2 linked regions of the Homo sapiens genome follow. The protein of the gene in region 2 interacts with the protein of the main gene of each other region in a biochemical or structural test. Each region holds a gene or a part of one and is shown on either strand. Other genes may lie near its edges.

Region 1 (7,610 bases), on a different chromosome or scaffold from region 2:
AGACTAGTTTTCTCAGTGCTACTTTACTGAGGACCTGGGTGATGTGAACCAAAGCTTTATCAGGAAGATGATTTGAGATGATTTGCAGAGTTGTCCTGTTTCTACAGGATTCACTGGAGTGAATTCCTATTATTGAGGTTTCTTATTTTGTCATTGTTAAAATAATGAAATTACTATTATAATCATGACTTAAAGAAGATTAATAAACTTTCTAGTAATGTGGGAGTCAGAAATAAGATTTCTATTTAATCGGGGCTAAATTCCTGAATTTACTATGGAAGCAAATAAATATCTGGCTTTCTTATTTCATATCTCTTTTAGTTGATGAGTATTTGGTTTTGCTTTTTTTCTCCTTGTTAACTTTAAAAAAAAAACCACACAATTTATAAATTTAGACAAGAAGAGACTTTCTTATACGAGGTTACAGCCTGCAAGGTGGGATCCTATGCTGGGAAGCACGCTGTATTATTCCGTTTTCATGCTGTCTATAAACACATGCCTGAGACTGGGCAATTTACAGAAGAAAGAGGCTTATTGGATTTACAGTTCCACATGGCTGGGGAGGCCTCACAATCATAGTGGAAGGCAAGGAGGAACAAGTCACATCTTACATGGAGGGCAATAGCAAAGAGAGAGCTTGTGCAGGGCAACTCCCATTTTTAAAACCATCAGATCTCGTGAGACTCATTCACTATCATCAGAACCGCAGGGGAAAGACCCGCCTCCATGATTCAGTCATCTCCCACTGGGTCCCTCCCACAAGATGTGGGAATTATGGGAGCTATAAGAAGAGATTTGGGTGTGGACATGGAGCCAAACCATATCACATGCCTTGGCCAAGATCAGAGACAGGCACTTTGAAGGAGGAGGGTTGGGGTAGGAGCTTTATGCTCAACAGGTTGGCTAAATATACATATTCAACAGGTGAGAGAAGAAGCTATGAATATTCATGAAAGTGGTCCTGATGCATGTGTATTTAACAAACATGCATGTTACATACAACTCATGTTCATTTTGGGGTGGTTGCAGCATTTAAATGTATTACAATTCAGCCTGATACGTCAAAAGGTCTTTTCAGGACATGAAGGCATGCAAGTGTGCAACCTCTGTAAGTCAGCCAGAACCATCCTATAGTCGGTAGTCTTATCAGGAGAAAGTTACTGAAATCAGTCTCTTGTCCAATCAAGCTGTAGTTATGGCTGGTGGAACAAGGGGTCGGTTAGTCAATATCTGTGATTTGGATGAGTTGTAATTGTTTTAATATTGCATATCTTCAGCCGGGCACGGTGGCTCATGCCTGTAATCCCAGCACTTTGGGAGGCCAAGGCGGGTGGATCATCTCAGGTCAGGAGTTCGAGACCGAGACCAGCCTGGCCAACATGACAAAACCCCATCTCTACTGAAAGTACAAAAATTAGCCGGGGGTGGTGGCATGCACCTGTAATCCCAGCTACCTGAGAGGCTGAGGCAGGAGAATCACTTGAGATCATGCCACTGCACTCCAGTCTGGGTGACAGAGAGGGACTTTGTTTCAAAAAAAAAATTTATATATATATATATGCACATATATACATATCTATATAGATACATAGATACATATACATATCTATATAGATACATAGATACGTATATATGTATATACATATATGTTTGTGTATATATATATATACAGAGAGAGAGAGAGAGAGAGAGAGAGTGAGAGAGAGAGAGAATCACTCTGTTGTCCAGGCTGGAGTGCAGTGGCACGATCTCGGCTCACTGCAACCTCCACCTCCCTGGTTCAAGCAATTCTCCTGCCTCAGCCTCCTGAGTAGCTGGGATTACAGGCACATGCTACCACACCTGGCTAATTTTTGTACTTTTTGTAGAGATGGGGTTTCATCACGTTGGCCAGGCTGGTCTCAAACTCCTGACCTCACATGATCCGCCCGCCTTGGCCTCCCAAAGTGCTGGGATTACAGGTGTGAGCCACTGTGCCCAAGCCATGTTCCCTATCTTCTCTGAGCAGGGCTGGGGAAAACAAAAACAAAAATATTGCTTATCTTCAAGCCAGTGCTTGTTTAGCTGCTGGAGAAAACAAAAACTCTGTGGCAGTTAGAACATAGCTTTTTTCTTTAAGTGTAAGGGTGCGTGACTTAACCCTTCCTGGCATGGCCTTAGATCCTGTTTATAATTTGTTATCGTATTGCCACAAAGAGTCTGTTCTGTCAGTCTTGTGATCTCTGTATTAACATTAAGGCTGCTCAGTTGTGTCTAAACTCTAAAAGGGAGAGGATGTAATGAGGCATATCTGATTTGCCATCCCATCATGGCTGGAAACTAAGTCTTTAAGGTTTTTCTGGGGTCTGCTTGGCCCAGAGGGGGTTCATTCAGTAGGTGGGGGGCATAGGATTTTATTTTTAGTTCACATTCACAAAAACAAAGGGCCAAAAAAGTCTTACTGTGTCACACAGGCTGGAGTGCAGTGGTGCAATCTTGGCTCATTGCAGCCTCCATCTCCCGGGTTCCAGCAATTCTCCTGCCTCAGCCTCCTGGGTAGCTGGGATTACAGGCACCCGCCACCACACCCAGCTAATTTTTGTATTTTTAGTAGAGAGAAGATTTTACCATGTTGGCCAGGCTGGTCTCGAACTCCTCACCTCAGGTAATCCACCCACTTGGGCCTCCCAAAGTGCTAGGATTACAGGCGTGAACTATCATGCCAGGGCTATATGTCTGTGCTTTCTAAACCCAATAAATGTGATGTAATATTAATGCTAACAGCACACGTGATGGGCCAGAAACATTTCTATAAGCCCAGCGGCTCTGGGCATAAATTTCTAGGGATGGTGAACCGAAGAAACAAAATTGTGTCATTGAAATCAGCTTTTCCCAACCACCAGTGTCTTCTCTCTCTCTCTCTTTCTCTCTCAGTGTTCACTTATTACATGGCTACTCTGTGCCAAGCACTGTTGCTAAACACATTATGTACAATTTCTCATTTCATTGGTACTGATTTTGACACTTACTCATCCACTGTCTTTTATCATGATGTGACCATTTCCTACAAAATGCCCTATGTAGCTTCCAACCAAAATACCACAAAGCACAACTTCAGCAGTCCTGCCTCTTGACCTTCTCCCAGGCTCTGCTCTCGCTCATCTGTTCCATCCTTTGCATTGGCAGAAGACCCATCTTTCTAAATGCTTACTCTCTTGGAGCATGTAATTTCTTTCCTAGGAATCACCATTCTCAGCTGCCTGACTCCAAGAATCGTTCTCAGTTTTATCTTCTGATGCTCCTAGACCTCAGCACCTTATTCCAGCCTAACACATCTGGCAACTCACTGTTCCCAGAGCTATTCAACATGCCTTCCACCTCAGGGCTTTACTTGGCCTGTAATGCCCTCTTCCTCTCTTTCTGCCAAAGTAGCTTAATGATTAGGAATATAATTCTGAAGTCCAACCATGGGCAAAGCCAGCTCCTCTGCTGACTTGGTGGATGACCTTGAACTAAATTTCTTCCCTTCTCAGAGCCTCCAATGGACAGTAAAACTAATAACAACACCTCCCTACCTTAGAGGTTGTTGTATAATTAAATGAGATAATATACATAAAGTGCATGGTGCAGTATCTGGTACATAGTAAAGATCAATAACCTGATGTTATCATTGTTGTCGTCACTATTATTATTTCAGACCTTGGTTTCTCCCCACTCTTTCATGAAGCCCTTATCTAACCACTCCAGGTCAAAATCATCTCTCTTTTCTTTGAATTAACTTACTTTTCCTATCACTGATTTGATGACTAGGATTTATTGCCTTAAGCTTTACATCATTCCTTTCCGATTTTATTTCCCCATCTCAGGTAAAAACTCCTGGAAGAAAAGATCCTGCAATTTGGCTTTTTGTGAGATGGAAAAGATTACACCTTGCCCTGCAAACTTCCCCCCTTTAAAGGCGAAGGTTTGTTAGGTTAGTTAGCCTGTGAGAAAACTGTGCGTTCTTAGCAATCAAAGGCCAGACATCTGGGGGTACAGGGGGGAGGAAGACTAGGATAAGAGACTCTAGACGGGGACAGAATTAAAAGGAAAAAAAAATTAAATAAGCCTCCGTCTCCTTTTATCTCCTAGCAGTAGGCAGTAATTTAATAAATAAAGGAGCCCCGTTAGCGTTTTCCCTGTCCATTCTTTCCCAGGCACGGTGACCTAGACAGCAGCAAAAAGCGAGTTAATAGGGAGGGGTTATGTAGGAAGCAAAAGTCAAGGAATGTGGCTACAGCTGATTACAGGAACTGAGAAAGTGGACCAAACAATATTGACTCCCAGCACGCCACCGCGATGTCCATCTTGGGGAATCCGTTGCTGGAAGGGACCCATCTCGCCCACCCTTAGGGGTCGAGGTGGGCGAAGGGGGAGGAGAGGGCTGGCGGGGCGGGGCGGGGTTGCTCCGCCCCCGGAGGCTGGGCTGTGACCAGCAGGCGGCTCCACAGAGCAGCGGGCGCGCTCATAAAGGGCACAGCCGAGGGTACGTGGATCGCGGTGCGGAGACTGAGGTTAGAAGGCACAGGTGGCGAGATGAGCCGGGTACCAGCGTTCCTGAGCGCGGCCGAGGTGGAGGAACACCTCCGCAGCTCCAGCCTCCTCATCCCGCCTCTAGAGACGGCCCTGGCCAACTTCTCCAGCGGTCCCGAAGGAGGGGTCATGCAGCCCGTGCGCACCGTGGTGCCGGTGACCAAGCACAGGGGGTGAGTGAGGAGGGTCGGGGTCAGGGGCAGGAGAAACTGGAAAGCGGGGAAAGGAGGAGCAGGAAGAGGAGGGGTGGGAGAAGGGAAGAGACGGCTTGCCTAACCGTTGCTAACAGCTGCCACTTTTAATAGGCGCTACCCGGTGTGCTAAGTGGGCGTTTTACAGGTGTTACCTTGTTTATTTCAGCACACTCTCCACCTAGGGAGGTATTGATACCACCATTTGATTGGTGGAAAACTGAGACTCAGAGAGGTTAAGTGACTTACCTAAGCTTACACAGCTACTAAGTGGCAGAGCTGGAAAGGTTTTCTGATCCAGAGCCAGACTTCTGAACATACTGTGCATAGTGTCTAAGGGAAGGGCAGAGGGATGCGGGGGCTGGAAGAGGGCCAGTGGGGTGGTGAGGAAGGAAAGAAAAAGGAAAGTATATGGATACTTTCTAAGAGACCCCAGCATTGATGGGAAGGGGCTGAAGCTGCTCCCTCTCTCCTTGTAGCTACCTGGGGGTCATGCCCGCCTACAGTGCTGCAGAGGATGCACTGACCACCAAGTTGGTCACCTTCTACGAGGACCGCGGCATCACCTCGGTCGTCCCTTCCCACCAGGCTACTGTGCTACTCTTTGAGCCCAGCAATGGCACCCTGCTGGCGGTGAGCAACTTCCTGTCCCGGGGTGGAATGGGGCCCCTGGGCCCAGATTGAAGCTCAAAAGTAAGTTCTCCGCAGCAGGGGGAGTCTTGATTGTGACTACGCGTGCCCCTCTGCAAGTGACTGGATACCAGCAACAGTGAAGGTTATCTGTGTCCATGTATCTATTTCTAGGACTGCCTGAGGATGCATAACACGGCACCAGCGCCCACTGCTGCCTCAAGCATGTGACAGTGTGGAAATAATAATCTTGTTGTCATTCTTGCATATGTCCTTGTCCTATACTCAGTTGCCCCAAATACGCAGCTTGAATGAACCCATTAGCCAAGGGAAGACTTACTTACTGAATCCTTGTCGACATGGAAAAGAAGGGGTGTTCTATAATCCCTGGGAGTCTTCAGAGGGGTATACGGTGTGACCTGTTTTAATATCTAATCATAGTTTCAAAAGGTAGCAGTAGCTTGTGTTTATGGAGTACTTTTTATAATGCATCAGGCACTTTTCTAAACATTTCACATTTATTAATCCTCTTAATACTTAAAACTATTCTATGATATGGGTAATATGATTACTCCCACTTTATAGATGAGGAAACCGAGTCAGAGCAACTATGTTCAACTTACCGAGGTTTATGTAACCAACAATTAGCATGGTTGGACTTCAGAGCTGCTCAGTCTAAGTCCACGGTCCATAGGTCCAGACTCTTCTAAGACCACCGCCATTTTAACTGCTACATATTGGGCACTTATGTGCCAAGAAGGAGACGCTGATCACATTCAATTCTGCAAAATTCCTCTATGGGTGTTTTTATTAACTCCCCTTCCCCCCAATTTCTGTTGAGGTCCTTGAGGCTCAGGTTAGTAGAGTCACTTTGCTTGAGGTCACACATCTGGTTAGTGAAAGACTCAAGAATCACTCCCAGGTGTGACAGTTAACTCTTAAGGTCTGTGCGCTCCAAGCTGGGTCTTACAATGTCCCTCCTTTTCCCCTGAATTTCTGGATCGCCAAATAATCTGGCCGTTTAACACTCCTTTGAGAATATCTAGCTTTCCCCAACTTACACTCATCCAACCGAGATGGCATTCATACTACCTGCCAACAGCGGTTCCCTAGGGGGGTAGAACCCAAGGCTTTGAAACTAGATGACAGCTGAATCTGCTCAGTGACTTCGTGATTCACTTCCTCATCTGTAAAATGAGGTTGATGATGCCTATTTTTTGATGATCAGCTGAGATGAATAACAGGGAGAGGAGTGCAGAGGATGGTTTTTACTAGCGAGGCATAATTTTCAACCTTCGCTGTGTATCGGAATCACCTGGGCTGTCTGGGTCTCACTCCTGGAAGAGATACAGACTGGGTTAATCTAAGGGTGGTATCTGAGCATCTTCACGAAGCTTTCCACATGTGCAGCAGGAACGGAGAGCCACTAAGAGTTTCATGGCCGTTGTCCAGATGTCAATTGGCAACCTTCTCTCTCTAGTTCCTTCTTAATTTGGTGTTTTGAGAATCCTAGGGCAAGAAAAGAAAATGGGCAGTTCTTGAGGGCTCACCATGTGCTAGATGTTTCCAGATATGCCAGTGCATTTAATCCTCACAATAACCCTCTGAATGGCTGGCATTATCTTTTTTACAGGTGAGGAAACCAGTGCTTAAAGATTAAAGTGTTTGTTCAAAGTTGCATATCTCGTAAGTGGAGGAATCGGATCCAGGTCTGACGCCAAACCCATGCTGTTTGTAGGATGCTATAAAACTTCCTAAGCTAATATTTTAGAACTGTTTCTTCTAATTTATGCAGTGGACAGGGGTTCCCCTTGCTCACTGTCTCTCTTTTCCTCCAAGGTCATGGATGGAAATGTCATAACTGCAAAGAGAACAGCTGCAGTTTCTGCCATTGCCACCAAGGTAAGATGAATGGCTGGCTGTACCATTAAGGTGAGCTGTCAAGTGGGGTCTGGTGTCTCAATCTTGAGAGACTAAAGGAGAAGTGGGGAACTTATTTTGGTTTCCTGTTGGACATAGCTGGAACTCCAGATGTCAGATATATCAGTAATTCACGAAATTATTAGCTACCAATTAGTGTGCATGACCAGATTTCAAGTACCTTATGTGCATAATTCTCAATCTTCCCATCAGTCTTGAAGAATCGAAATGAGAAATTCTCTCCACCTTCCAGGTCAAGGAATATGGCTCAGAGAGCTTCTGTGAATTGCCCAGGATCACACAGCTAATAAGTGCTAG
Region 2 (7,795 bases):
TGACACTTGGAAGCTGTTGTGCTTTTCTGTACTGCTGGGCAGGGATGGCAATTCAGTCTCTTCTCTCGGCTGATGCCACCCTGCCTGGGAGGGTCAGGGTTGCCTCCTTACTGCTCATCATGTGGCCTTGTTACTGCTGGGCAATTATGAAGGTCCTGATTCTTCACTAGGTCTCTTCTGACACCACCTAAGTGTCAAGGGGGAGAGTGCCACCTTATTACCACTGGATGGGAGCAGAAGTCCAGGCTCCCTACACTCCATTGACATGGCAGAAAGAGGAGGCTCATTACCGCCCAGCAGGGTAAAAGTCACAGCTCCACATTCTGTCTCCTCTGACAAACAAGGTCAGGGGGATTGGGGAACCTCCTTACAGATTGACAAGTGTGGAAATCTGGGCTCCTCACTTGACCTTTGCTGGCCTGGTGGGGTTAGAGACAGATTTTCTGTGATGTTTGATATAGTAAAGAGGTTGTTATCTAAAAGTTTTCTGTCTTACCAGTCTGCCGCCCTTTCCTGGAACTTTGGCTCAAGAGGCTTTTCTGGGGGCTTGTTTTGTCTGTGCTCCCTGGCATTTCTGAGTATCCAGCTCCTCCAACATCTCATCTGAGACATAGGAGGCCGAATAAAATCCAGGAAACTCCTACCATATATCTTGTCCCTCTGATCCTGAGGTTGATAGCCAGTCTTTTTCTCTCTAACTTTCAGTGCCTTCTTATGTTTGTTTTATGTATAATATTCATGGTTTTAGCTATACTTAGTAAGAGGTACAGGGAAAAGTGTATTTTTCACTCTGTCTTTCTGGGATGAGAAATCAAGAACCAGAAATGTTTATTATTGCCCTAGGAACCTAGGAGAAGACGGGTTGTGGCTTTGTGTCCCTAGGTATTTGGAGGATGGGGAGAAGCTGTCCATAAGTGGTAGCAGGGATCCAGCAATATGGTGGCAGGCTGGACTAAAGGAGAGATGACTGGGAAGCAATTTCCTGTGGTGCATGACAGCTGATGGATGGATGTCAGAAACAGTGGTGTCTGATGATCCATTTGAAGCCATTTCCTCCTCTATATTGCTATTACTGTCCATCTCCCCCTAAATTTTCAGTAAGCACCTATTATATAAAGCACCTTAGTATTAAAAAATGAAGGAGATGAAAGAGAAGGTTGTGCAGTTGTATTTTGGGCCAAGAAGAGTGGGAGAGGTGGCAGGGCCAGCGATGAAGAGCCTGCCAGAGTGATGGAGGCCTGAGCAAGGAGCAAGTTGGTGAAGAAAGATTAGGACATTGCCATGTGGAGTCGCTGTGGAAGCCTGTTTGTTCTCAGAGCTCAGTGGAGAAGAGGTAAAAGTAGGGACCAGTAGCTGAGTCATTATGAGAAAGAGGGTTTCATGGTGGTGGAAGTGACACATTGCCTCGATTCTCTTGAAGCTTTCTGCTTTGTTGCTTGAGTGGAGAGAAGCACCTCTGCTATTGCGTATGGAGGGAAGCTCTTTGCATGGATTTTGAAGGCGGCCTCTGCATTTCGGACTACTGGGTGCTCCCCCACAGGCTCCTAACACCTTGCTGCTTCTCCAGGTGGGGTCTGACGTGGAGTCAGCTCACAGACCTGCCATTCCTCTCTCATAGTACTCCTCATTCCAGTGATATCTTGGCCTGCTTCATGAACCCTGAGCCCAGAGTTCCTAAAGCACCAAACCCAGTGAAGCAGAGACACTTCTGGCATGGGTCTGTGGGTTGCTTCTCAGGGGCCAGGCCAGCAAGAATGATTCAGCACACAGGCCAACCTGTGCAAGCTTTATGCATGCATTTTAGGGCAATGGGAAGAGTGGTGAGTGAGGTTTATGGTAAATCTTTAACCACATTCAATTTTTTCTAAGACTTTTCTGCTTTAGAACATGTAGAAATGGAGAAATGACCAGGGGCTGCACAATGCTGTGCTTATTATATTGCTGTAGAGAGAAGGATGCTGCCAGCTCTCCATAGCCTGGGGTGAACTTGGCCTATGTAATGAGGTAGCAGGGAGTCAGGCAGGTGAGTTCTTCCTCTTGTATTGCCTTTTCCAGTAAATGCCAATACACTCCCCAGCTCACCTTTACCTAACATCTAGGTCTTAATCCAAGTTGTCCTCCCACTCCCCAGGGTGAATTGATCTTCCTGCCACGGCACCTCCTGAGCATCTGTTGGCTGAGTCTCCATCCCCACCCGTGAAAACAGCCTTGTGATGTGCTGTTTAATATCACAGAATGGAAACAGTGTTTTGATTCACCAGGATCCAAACACTCTTTTTGTAGAATCTACAAAGTGACATGGATGGCCATATTTTAGAGGACTGTTCCTGCAGCTGGTGGGGAAGCCCTGGTGAGGAGCAGTACAGCAGGCTGTTCTGGCTGGCTCGTTCTGAGCTGTAGGGATGTGACGGAGGCAGGAAGAGTGAGGATGCAGAGGAGGGGAGGACCAAGGAAGTAGAAATGAGCAGCAGCCTGGTAGGACCTGGAGGCTGGTAAGACTTGAGGGGAGAAGCCTAGGATGGGGCTCGGATTTACTATCACAGAGACAGCCAATGGGGTGATGTCAGGAGAAAGGTTGAGGAGTTCAGGTTGGGATATGTTGAATTTGAAATACCTGTAGGGTGTCCAGGCAGAGTGGATCTGAGCTCAAAAAAGTCTGGCTGGAGACTGAGCTAGAGAGAGATGTGGGAGTTCCAGGCATGTGTGGTCCCCAAGAAGGACGGGCAGAGCACGGGTTCTCCCCTGTTTTTAATCCCATACCCTGACACTTCAAATGACTGTTGTGTTTTACTTTCTCTAGTTTATATCAGGAACCCAACAATGATGACAGTAGCTGTTATGGACTGAATTGTGTTCTCCCCCCAAATCCATATGCTGAAGTCCTAAAACCAGGACCTCAGAATGTGACCGCATTTGAAGGTAGGGTCTTTAAAGAGGTAATTAAGTGCACAATGAGGTCACAAGGATGGGCTCTAATCCAATATGACTGGTGTACTTAAAAGAAATAAATATTAAGACACAAACACACACAGGGAAGACCAAGTGAGGATACAGGGAGGAGATGGCCATCTGCAAGCCCAGGAGAGGAGTCTCCAAAGAAACCAACAGTGCTGACACTTTGATCTTGGATTTCCAGCCTTCAGAACTATGAGAAAATAAATTTCTGTTACTTAAGCCACCCAGTCTGTGATAGTTTGTGATGACACCCATAGCAGACTAGTACAGTAGCTAACACTGGATACTTATTATGTGTCAAATACTGTTTTAAGCACTTTGCATATTTTAACACATTTAATATTCATAGCAACCCTATTTGTGGAAGGTAGTACAGTCTACGGCACGGCAGCTATATCGGCCCCTTTATTTTCCCCAGGGTTTGGAGTCTCTTCCACTTTCCAGCTTGTCCTCCTGCCCTTCACTCTACCCGGGACCATATCCTCCAGATTCTCACAGGTCCCTCCATCTCTCCTCAGGTGCCAGGCTCAGCAACCTGCCCTCATTACCTGCCAGTTCCTGACCCTATCTGTCACTAGCTCCTTACCTGGCTGGATTGGTCTTCTGAATACTTGCCATTCCCTGGCATGATGCTTTTGCAAAATAAGAAAATCAATAATAATAATAATAACTGCTAGTGTCTAATAAGCATGTGCTCTTCAATGTCTATTCTCTTACAACTACCTTAACAAATAGGGACATATTATTATTCTCCTTTTAACTTTGCTTTCCAGAGAAGGAGGCTGGGGCTCAGGGAGATGAGGTGAGTTTTTCCAGGTCTCACAGGAACAGGACTGAAGGAAGGAAGCCATGTTTGCCAGGAGAAACCAAATGGACATACAGGCTTTCTGTGGAATACACAGTTCCTGCTATCTTTTGGTTGACAAAGTCTGAGGTCCTAGGAAAGAGAGGAAAGTAATAGAAATATGAATATGAGTGTGTGTGTATTTTGCTTCCCTCACCAAAGTTTTCACAGTCTATATTAATGAGGGCACGATTTTGCCTGTTTTGTTCTCTGCCATATCCTCATTGTCTAGATTAGGTGCCTGCTACTGTGGAGCTCTAAGAGGTTGTTAGAGAAAGAATAGAAGAAAGAAAAGAAGGAAGGAAGGAAAGAAGGAAGAAAGAAAAGAAAGAGGGAAGGAAGGAAAGAAAGAAGGAAGAATGAAAGGAAAGAAGGATAGAAGGGAGAAAGGAAGGAAAGAAGAAAGAAAGGAAGAAAGGAAAGAAGGAAGGAGGAAGGAGAAGGAGAAAGGGTAGGGTGGGGAAGGAAAGAACAAAGGATTGCTTTTCCCTCACTGTGGGCTTGAGCCTGTTCCCTCCAAAGATACAGAGCTTTGGTCTTTACCCATAAAAAAGGATTTTGAAGTCACCCCACCCCGTTCTGTTCCCCCACAGTTTAGACAAGATCCTCATGCTCCACTGGCCACACGAGTGCCCTCAGGAGGAGTAGACACAGGTGGAGGGAGCTCCTTTTGACCAGCAGAGAAAACAGGATGGGGCACTGCCTCACTGAGGACCTGGGGGTGGGAAGGAAAGTGCCAACGGCAGCTCTATAAAAGCTCCCTGGCCAGGGGACCTAGGGCAAGCAGTGGTTTCTCCTCCTTCCTCCCAGGAAGGGCCAGGAAAATGGCCCTGGTCCTGGAGATCTTCACCCTGCTGGCCTCCATCTGCTGGGTGTCGGCCAATATCTTCGGTAAGTTCTGAGGCCATGGAGCCAGGCGGTGGGGAGGGAGCTCCAGTGTCAGCCAGGCTCTGCCCTGGGCCTTCGAACAGGTGCGATCTAATTTAATCTTCACAAATTCCCACATGTCAGTGATTTGCTTTTTTTTTTTCAGATGAAGAGGCAGATTTAGAGAGCCGAACTGAATTACTTGAGGTCACAGAGCTAGTGATTGATGGAGCAGAAATGGGAAATGTGGTTGATCTTCCTAATTCAATTCTAGGTCCTCCTCACCCCACCATTTTGGCAAACTTTTGGCATTGACCTTGGGTTTTTATCCCCTTAGCTATTCCAAAGTCTGTGTCATCCATAACAGGTATTTTAGAAGCAGTAGAAAAAGAAATCTACCTATGAAGTGAAATAGCCCTAAGTTCTGTCTTTGGCTCAGCCACTTACCCATATGACTTCGGGCAAAGTGCCAAGCTTCTGTTTTTTTTTTTTTTTTTTCATTTAAAAAGTAAACAAATAACACACACCTCATGATGCGGTTGTGATTTCTGGGTAGGACCCTATGTGTTACAAGAGTTCTCAATGGAAAAATAAGTCATGTACATTATTAATTAATTGGTATTTCAATGTTTATCTGGAACATGTTACATCTGCAGGGCATGGCTTGATAGATTCAAGAAGAACTTCCTTACGGTTCTCTAACTTACTCCAAATAGCCTCATGGGAATTGCGGCAGGGTGGGGGCGGGCGGGGAACGTGTAGTCCCAGCGTTGATTTTGGGATCCTTCACTTGCCAGTTACGTGACTTTGGGCAGACGACTTTCGCTGCCTGAGACTTGGTGCCTCATGAGTGACAAGGATATATTGCCTGTCACCTCTTAGGAGAATGTTGCACATTAAATGAGCTAATGTCATACTTGTAAGAAAGTGTGCTTAGCTGCCAAATTTTAAAATAGGCTGTCATAGGTAATGATGATGACCCTGGAAAAGCATCTGTGCTTATGAGAGCCCGTCTCTGTCCTGGCAGCCCAGTCCACACTCTTCTTTGATGAACCACTTTTCTTTTCCTAGAGTACCAGGTGGATGCCCAGCCCCTTCGTCCCTGTGAGCTGCAGAGGGAAACGGCCTTTCTGAAGCAAGCAGACTACGTGCCCCAGTGTGCAGAGGATGGCAGCTTCCAGTAAGGCTTATGTCAGCAGCGAACTCTCAAGGTCCAAGATGCCATAAAAAGCATCTTGTGCCTTCCCCCCTCTTCCTGAGCTCTGCCCTGCAACTCCTTTGTGCATGTGAGGCTTGGCCACTGTCATTTGGAGGTGCCTGCCTTTCAGTTCCACTGTCATTTGGAGGTGCCTGCCTTTCAGTTCCCCAAGCTGTTCAACACTGGACAATCTGACCAAGTGAACCCCAATCCATGCTTCATCCTCCCACTGCCCTCCCTTCTCTTCTTGCCATCACTTTTTCTGTGATGGCTTGAATAAACGGCACGTGTGGGGAGTGGGGCAGGTTGAGGAGAGTGTCAAATGATCTGTGCTTTGGGACCTCTCCCTCCTCCAAGTATCCTCTTGAGAAGCTGGGGTGGTGGAAGCAGAGGCTGCCTTGACTTCCTAGTCCTTAGCTGCCACCGACCCTGCCCGGACTAGCTCTCTAGGCTGCCTCTGGGCTTCTGGGTCGCTGTCTCCACATTGAGCTGCTCTCTGAAAGGGGTTTCTCCAGCTGCCCTAATGCAGACTTGGGGCCTGAGACCCTCTCTGTGGAGAGTGTGGTAATAATCTAGACAATTCTTCCCTGCAGAATAGACAGGAATCCTTTGCAATGTGCATGCATTGAAATTTCCTTGTGCTATTCCAGTCATGTTGAATCAGGGGAACTCCATTTATATAACTGCGTTCTGGGAAATGTCTGTGAAACCTCCCTCCCTGCTGCTATCTTATGTACACTCTTAATGTGCCTAACCTCCCACGAGTGTGCAGAGATGCTGCTAGAGCAGTCCCTGCTTAGATCACTGGGAATTCTGGAACAGCAAGGAAGGAGTTAAGGAGGAAGTCTCACTTTCACCAGCCTTATTTATATTCCCATTCCCAACTCTCTTGTTCTGGCCTCTTGCAGTTTCAAACCTGGCCTCTCTTCAGGAGGCTTTGCATATGCTGTTCCCTTTACCTGGAATATCTTTTACCTTCTTATACCTCTGACCATCCTGCAGGTCTCAGTTCAGTCATCATTTCTGGGGAGTCAACTCTATGGCCTGGCCTGACCCCACCCATGTGCTTCCCAATATACCCTGCTGGCCCCTGATCCCACTAACATCCCACCCCCAAGCCCCCACTCCCTATCCATACAATGTGGGCACTGCCTTTACCCTCTGCAGCCTCATAATGCCTGAGGACACTTGGTGGATGTGGCTGAAGCCCTGCACTCCAGGGTGGGTCACTTGTTTTGGGGCTGGCAGGCTGGACAGGTGGTGAATGAATGGCTGGGGCAGGAGGCAGAGCAGGTGCTAGCCAGGCAGGAAAAGTGGGGCCTTTCCTTTCCCAGGTCAGCCACCCTTCTCCACTCCACTCTCTCCCTAATTTAAACGAACCAAAACTTGCAAGAATGGAAATGAAGAAGAAAAGTAGCCTGAGTGGGAGCCGGCATGTGGCTTTGGGGGCCCATCCCAGGGTCACCTGGTCTGTGTCTCCTCCTCAGGACTGTCCAGTGCCAGAACGACGGCCGCTCCTGCTGGTGTGTGGGTGCCAACGGCAGTGAAGTGCTGGGCAGCAGGCAGCCAGGACGGCCTGTGGCTTGTAAGTGGGAGTGGGGGACGTCCCTTGGAGGGACCCTGCTAGGACAACTCACTTCCAGGAATGAGCACTGGGTTTGGGTGGGTGACTGAGCAGGTCCTCCCTCTGGGCTGCTGGCTTCTCCTCTGTGAATAAGAATCATCCCTGCAAGCCATGGAAGGCCCTATTTCCTGCAGGGCCACTGTGAAAGTCCAGTCATTTGTTCAATAAATATCTACCCAGTTCCTCCCATGAGCCACATGCTGAGAAGACAATGGTGAACAGACATCAACATCTCCTGAAATCAGAAAGTGACCAGAAAAATATGAGTGCCTTCTCACCCGTGGTGTGAGGAGTTTCTAAAATTTAA

Evidence for each region.
Region 1: the proteins of TG (region 2) and CRYM form a complex in vitro, tested with the Homo sapiens proteins (one study listed by BioGRID).

Annotation. Positions count from the first base shown.
Region 1 is NC_000016.10:21,275,196-21,282,805, reverse strand, and holds the start of CRYM (ketimine reductase mu-crystallin), read left to right. Parts: upstream 1-4,515; 5' UTR 4,516-4,554; coding exon 4,555-4,724; intron 4,725-5,221; coding exon 5,222-5,375; intron 5,376-7,211; coding exon 7,212-7,274; intron 7,275-7,610. UniProt on the Homo sapiens protein: Catalyzes the NAD(P)H-dependent reduction of imine double bonds of a number of cyclic ketimine substrates, including sulfur-containing cyclic ketimines.
Region 2 is NC_000008.11:132,862,378-132,870,172, forward strand, and holds the start of TG (thyroglobulin precursor), read left to right. Parts: upstream 1-4,580; 5' UTR 4,581-4,623; coding exon 4,624-4,690; intron 4,691-5,737; coding exon 5,738-5,846; intron 5,847-7,351; coding exon 7,352-7,449; intron 7,450-7,795. UniProt on the Homo sapiens protein: Acts as a substrate for the production of iodinated thyroid hormones thyroxine (T4) and triiodothyronine (T3).